Homo sapiens: one gene and its partner. The protein of the gene in region 1 interacts with the protein of each later gene in a pairwise test. Each region holds a gene or a part of one and is shown on either strand. Other genes may lie near its edges.

Evidence for each region. The genes of interacting proteins can lie anywhere in the genome.
Region 2: the proteins of GNPTAB (region 1) and DSCAM interact in a two-hybrid assay, tested with the Homo sapiens proteins (one large-scale study listed by BioGRID and IntAct).

The regions. Positions count from the first base shown.
Region 1 is NC_000012.12:101,824,460-101,827,959, forward strand, and holds part of GNPTAB (N-acetylglucosamine-1-phosphotransferase subunits alpha/beta precursor), read right to left. Parts: intron 1-3,500. UniProt on the Homo sapiens protein: Catalyzes the formation of mannose 6-phosphate (M6P) markers on high mannose type oligosaccharides in the Golgi apparatus.
Region 2 is NC_000021.9:40,074,159-40,077,658, forward strand, and holds part of DSCAM (cell adhesion molecule DSCAM isoform CHD2-42 precursor), read right to left. Parts: intron 1,056-3,500; coding exon 879-1,055; intron 1-878. UniProt on the Homo sapiens protein: Cell adhesion molecule that plays a role in neuronal self-avoidance. Promotes repulsion between specific neuronal processes of either the same cell or the same subtype of cells.

The DNA of each region.
Region 1 (3,500 bases):
TTAACCTTTTTGTTTTGTTTTGTTTGAGACAGAGCCTCACTCTGTCGCCCAAGCTGGAGTGCAGTGGCACAATCTTGGCTCACTGCAACATCTGCCTCCAGGGTTCAAGCGATTCTCCTGCCTCAGCCTACCAAGTAGCTGGGACTACAGGCATGCACCACCACGCCCAGTTAATTTTTGTATTTTTTGTAGAGACAGGGTTTCACCATGTTGGCCAGGCTGCTTTCGAACTCGCCTTGGCCTCCCAAAGTGCTGGGATTACACACATGAGCCACCACACCTGGCCTCATCCTATATTTTTCAATTATCCCAGTTAACAAACTGGTTAATAATAAACTAGTTAATAAGCTAGGTCTGAGTTGGGAGTCTGTCACTTGCAACCTAGTGCTGTTAACTAATTCTAGCTGCAATGTTAAACCACTAGTAATTCAAAAAGAAAAAGCGATCACAAACTTCTCTGACATTACCAACTTTATGCTAAAATTACTCCCACCACTTCCTAAAATAATCTTTCCTTGTCTCTCTTCTGTTTAAACTCCTACTTGTCCATGAAGCCTCCCTAAAGCTCATGCCTCCTTGAAAAGGTGTCAGAACTGCCTCGAGGATGTTTCAACCCACAACATTCTTCTGTCTTCTGACTTTCTAAGCAATTGTTGTGTACTAACTCAGGCATTCAATTGCTTATTCCCCTGTGTTGTTATTCAGTCCTCATACATACATCTTGGCCTCATCTCAACTAAACAATAGCCAAAGGCATGAGCTATAATTATTTGTATCTCTGACAGCATTTTCCACTGTATATTCTGACGACAGCATCTTCCACTGTACAGTCTAACAACAGGTCTCAGATTTTTAGAGAAAGTTACCAGAGCAGGAATGACTCTCAGAGCATGAAAATGTTCAAGTTATATCAGATCAATCACATTTGAGAAATAAAAGGGAACTATAAACGCTACATCAGAGCAAAAAATTTACCTTTACTTGAAATAAATTTGAAAGGATGTCAGTTAAGATCAACCCAATTAATCAATCCATTCATTCATGCATCCATCAAGTATTTATTCAGCATCTACTGGGTACCAATCACTTTCTAGTGGCTAAGAATACAGCAGAGAATAAGACAAGGTCCCTACTTTGATAGTTAGCTGGACTATGTACCTCTCACAAACCCCCCAAAACAAAGAGACCCTTTAAAAAGGCTCTGTGTGGCCATTGGCATCTCTAGTATAAAATCCATTACAAGTCATGCTTCTCATGTGAAGTATCCAATAAATGTATATTCACAAAACATTAAAGCTAAAATGAGGCTCTTAGAAATATAGTCTCATAGTTTGTAAACATTTTTTAAACAATGAAACCTTTCCCAGAAAACAAGTCCACACGAAATAGATAAGAGGGGCTACTCCCAACCCACAAGGCAGCTGGGAGTAACTCAGTTTGGGAACCACTGAGGATCACAATTTGTGCTGCACCTAGGAGCAGGCCAGACGGTCCCCACTCTCAGGCCAGGCCTCTTTCTAACTCATCTGTTTGTTGCCTTTGGCCAAGAACACACTCAAATATATCTGTTTAATGAGTGAACTAATCAAATACAAAAATGATAACTAATTTCTTGAAATAAGGCCAGTATAAGACACTGGTCACCACTGAGGCTGAACATAACTTGAGCTAGACCCAGTTTTCAATTCTCCTTTTCACAGAAAATAACTCATTGATTCAAAATGGCAACAGAAAAGCAGGAAAGCAAAAGGGAGCAGAGAGGTCACGGAAAAATTACCATTCATTACGAGTAGATTCTATGTGAACCTATTTTGCTTCCTTATGCAAGTTAATTCTTGGATATTTGTTTCCATACTTAGTGCACAAAGGAAGTGATACGTTATACATACACCATACCCCCACACACAGATACACATACACATATACACACTGATCTACAACCCTCTATTAGTAATCCTGAAATCCAAAATGCTCTGAATACTGGAGGGGCTTTCAACTTTTTGTTTCTAATTTTTAATTTTTTTAATTTTATTTTTCTGATTTTTAATTTTTTTTTTTTTTCAAAACAGACCAGCCCTACCTAGAGATCTTTTTGTACCTTATTTGGCAACTAAACTTGACCTGCCCTGTACTTATTTGGTGGCAAAATGACTAAACTGACTTGAGGCTAGGTATAGTCTGTATTTTCCTGAGTGTGAAGAATTGTGGACTTGTATATAAATGGTTCGATTAAATAATGATGGCCCTGAAATAATAAATTTTAACTCAAAAACACGTTTTAAAATCTATACAGTAGCAACTAACAGAGAACAAATTATTTAAAAACCAGAAGTTTCTAAGCTAAAAAGGATCTTAAGAGCAGTCAATCTAGTAACACCATTTGTGGAGCTAACTAATTTACAATAGACTGATTACCTGCTACCTACAGTCCAAGGCAATGCATTTTTGTGACCACTAGTCCCCATTCTGAAGGCTCTCCCTGTGGGAGTTGTTTTTTTTTTTTTTTTTTTTTTTTTTTTGAGACCAGGTCTACCAGGCTGGAGTGCATGGCACAATCACAGGCACTGCACCTCAAACTCCTGGGCTCAAGCAACACTCCTGCCACAGCCTCCTGCCTCCTGAGCAGCTGGGACTACAGGCATGTGCCACCACACCTAGCTAACTTTTTTTATTTATGTATTTATTTTTGAGACAAGGTTTCACTCTGTCACCCAGGCTTAAGTGCAGTGGTGCAATCACGGCTCATGCAGCCTCAACCACCAGGGCTCAAGTGATCCTCCCACCCCAGTCTCCCAAGCAACTGGGACTACTCTACTTTTTTTGCAGAGATAGGGTTTCGCCATGTTGCCCAGGCTGGTCTCAAACTCCTGAGCTCAAGCAATTCTCCTGCCTCGGCCTGCCAAAGTGCTGGGATTACAGGTGTGAGCCACCACGCCCAGCCTTTATTTTTATTTTTTTTTGTAGAGACAGGGTCTCCTTTGTTTCCCAGGCTTGTCCAACTCCTGACTTCAAGCAATCCTCCAGCCTTAGTCTCCCAAAGTCCTGGGATTACAGGCATGAGCCACCTCACCCAGCTTGTTTTGTTTGATACTTCCTTCCCTCAATTCTACTTCTCGAAGTTTGGATGAATATAGAAAAGGCTTATCAAAATACAGCATCAAATACCTGTTATATTGAGAGGAGGAGACGATAACAAATTTACAGTTAACAATGATCTTCTGAGGGCCAGGCACAGTGGCTCGCACCTATAATCCCAGCATTTTGGGAGGCCAAGGCAGGCGGATCACCTAAGGTCCAGAGTTTGAGACCAGCCTGGCCAACATGGTGAAACCCTGTCTCTACTAAAAATACAAAAACTTAGTCTAGCGTGATGGCGGGTGCCTATAATCCCAGCTACTCCGGAGGGTGGGGCAGGGAAAATTACTTGAACCTGGAAGGTGGAGGTTGCAGTGAGCTGAGATCACCCCACTGCACTCCAGCGTGGGCAAGAGTGAGACTCT
Region 2 (3,500 bases), on another chromosome or scaffold:
ATATGTTTTGAGGAGAGAGTGCTTCCAGATTTGTACTTTGAACATAACTTTGAAACACACATAGGATGCTGCATAGCAGTATCCCACACTGCACTGATATTAAAATGAAAATCCCTTGTAATACACGTTACCGAAAAAGTGGCTTAGTTAAACACCCTCACTGGTAAAGGGCAAAGGACCTGGGAACACGTCTGCACAGTTTCATATTTGAAATAACTCCCTGTCCTCACATTGCAGAGCAAGGGCAAGTAAGGGCTCTTGGCCAGAAGCTGAGAACAGCCTCATCACAGAACGACACGGGGCTGGACATTATAATCATGGTGTCTGTTCACAATGGAGCTCATCTGGCCTGGCTTCTCCAGCCTTCATTATGTTTTTGCTACATTAGAGTGAAACTCTTACACTGGGCTTCAGCTCCCGTTTCTAATTTGGGATGGCATGTGTCCTCTGCCTCACAATGCTTCACCAGTATCCTAAGCCCTCAATTTCCACTTCCAGTCAGTCAAGTAATTCTCATTCCCAGAGCAAATCTGATAGATCTTTTCATAGAAAGCCACAATTGGTGGCTTTGCTGGACCCACTGAAAATTTAAGAGACTAGAGTTAAAAAATTAATTTTCCTTGCATACCAACAGCTAGGATTTAGGGGACAGGTTGGCTTTCACCTGATTTCTGACCGAGATAGGAACATTCTTATTGCTCTTCCCTGAGGCTCTGCAGTCTCGCTGAAGGAATGTCAGAGAACCAGGCAGTGGAGGGACCTGGGTTAAAGAGGGAAGAGTCACTCCCTTTTGAGGTTTGTTCTCCAGCTGGCATCTCTCCCATTGGCTGCAGAGCAGCAGGGGACACGCGTAGGTGGACAGCTGGGCCTGGACCTACCTCGCAGCCTCTTTAGCCTCTGCTCCCGCCGCCTCCTCCGCACAACCAGCAGGAGCACAAACAGCAGCAAGACCCCCACCAGGATACAGGAGATGGTCACCAGCATCTTGAGCCCCTCGTTGGTCGTCAGCCCTTCTTCGTTTTGGACAACTGACTTAATGAGTGGAGGAATTGTACCTGAAAGCAGGGCCACGGTGTTAGATGGCTATTAATGAAGACGGCATGGCGGAGCTTTTAGGGATGACAGGTTATAAAAATCGCGCTGTGTGATCCAAGGGTGTTGGAGGTGATGAGAAATGAAAAGAACTCTGTCTCTAGGCCCTGGCTAACTTTTTTTCTTATTTATTTCCCTCCCTCTGCCTGAACTTCCAACTTATTCTATAGTGCACGTTTGAAAAGGACTTCATTTTGCAATGCACTACAGTGTGCAGGCACTTGAAAGCATGAGGCCCAGGCTTGGTGCTGACAAAAGCCACATGCATCTACCCAGAATTAAGTGTTCCCTTGACTGTCACCCACAGTACAATTGATAGAGACTATTCGAAAAAATTGCACATCAAAGAATGAACAAAAGGTTGGGCAAATGGACAGAAGCGCGTGTGCAGGGAGAGGGTCCTAGATACACTGGCATAAAGAAACTCAAATCCCTTGTGATTAGGTAATTTGCTGGCTTTTATCGCAGGTGTAAGACCAAATCTACTTCAACAGCTGTGGTTTGAGGGTACAAGAGCTACAGACAGCTTTTCAAAGGGGACCCAACTAGGTTTCTAAAGGAGCCTACTTTTGATCAGGCATGGTTAAATAGTGCTACAAAATCTAGATTATTTCGAGTAATAAGGAAACACTGAAGGAAGATGAACTCTGAGCTATCTTAAGCTGCCTTCTATCCAGATGCTCAGTACCGTGGGTGCAGAGATCTAAACACAGGCATCCACTTTTTATGAGGTATATATTTTGCTACCCTCCATTATATAAGATGCTCCACGCCACTGCACTTTCCATGTACAACAAGGGCCAGAAAGTCAGCACTTCAGGAAAAGAGAATGCAAAAATAATATAATTTCTCCCTCAGCAAAACGGTCTTTATCCTGCATTTAGTAAGCAGAGCAGGGATAATGGAATCCTCGTTCCTCTGTGATCTCTGCTAAAGCTGAGAAGAGTGTTCTCCCAACTTTAAAGTGTTTTTGTGGAAGCCCAAGTCTCCAAATGCTTAGAAATTCAGGAAAGAGGCACTTACAGGATGCCCATGAAGAGGGGTCTGCAAAACCAAGACAACACTAGGTCAAGCAGAAACATTCGGCTAAGGAAATGGCAGAAGAAAGAGTGAGATCATTAAATGGAGGACTCTGAAACCTGAGTGGTATGAATGTAGGCTGCCAATCTTGGCTTTCTCAAGATAACAAAGTTCTTCAGGCAGATGTGACAATAGAGGCTATCCATTCATGAGACTGGTCCAAAGAAATCTGTAATCTCTCTCAAGGAAAATATAAATATGCAGCCATATTTCTTAGTGTAATAAAGTGATTTCATATTTCCAAAACGTAAAGGTAGCTTGCAGCATTTTTCAAAATTTGGGATCTTGGATAAAGTGAGAAAATTATATCTTTTCTTAGAAGACAAACATTTAAAATCCGCAGAACACTTTGTGAATTAGAATCACAGTTTCAAATTCTACACATGAGTAGTTTCTAATTAAATCATTAGCTGTGAGCATATCATCAGTGTGCACATTTAAGCTGGGTGCCCAGGCATCTGCACATATTATAGAGAAGCTGGGAACCAGAGTGTGAATATTGCAAGATAATGATCTAAAGTAAAAAAGATACTTACTACTCAAATGTGTGCTGGTTAACAGAGGATTTTGGTGCACCCTTAAATGCTAAGTAAAGTGTCTGGTAAGTGTCAAAGTTCTTTATTTTGTAAGATCAAATAATTCAACCATATTACAGGGAGAGGCCAGCTTGGAAGTGCTCCTCTGCCTCTGGGTGATGCTTTGTGATGGGGACACCTTTGAATGAAGTCACTGAAGAGTGAGGGCTATAAAATTAGAAAGAGGCAGCCCATGAAAAGCATCAGCCCTTGAAGAGAAAAGTTGTCGTCTGGGAGGGCATAGGCTATTCTGGGGCCATAGGACAGAGCCCGTGCAGAGGCCAGGGACCCCGGCTAGCGTAACCAACACTAGAAGAGCTTTCTACAAGCTCAAGGTCTTCCTACAGCCCTGAGACCCAGGCCAGAAGTGCCAGGAAGACCCTGGACTCTGGCAGAGAAGGATGTTGTGGAAAAATGACCTTGGACAGGAGATTTGGGGTAGGTCTGCTCTGTGTGCCAAAGCAAGAAGAGCCAGCCCTGGGCCATCCGGACATTATAGGAGAAATTGGTCCGATGAAAATCCCAGGCAATGTCACCTCATTAGCTCCTGGTGGTCATTTCTGTGGGTCCTTAGGTTCACAGCCACTCTTCTTAGGATGGCATAAACTGTGCTCCAAGGAGCTACCTGCTGGAGCTTTAATAAAGCGGCCTCCCAAATGCACAAAGTAAAGAAAGAATCACTCTCCTAGAGAGCAATGCTGATGCTTTTCATGGGCTGCCTCTGTCTAATTTTACAGCCCTCAGTTATGAGTG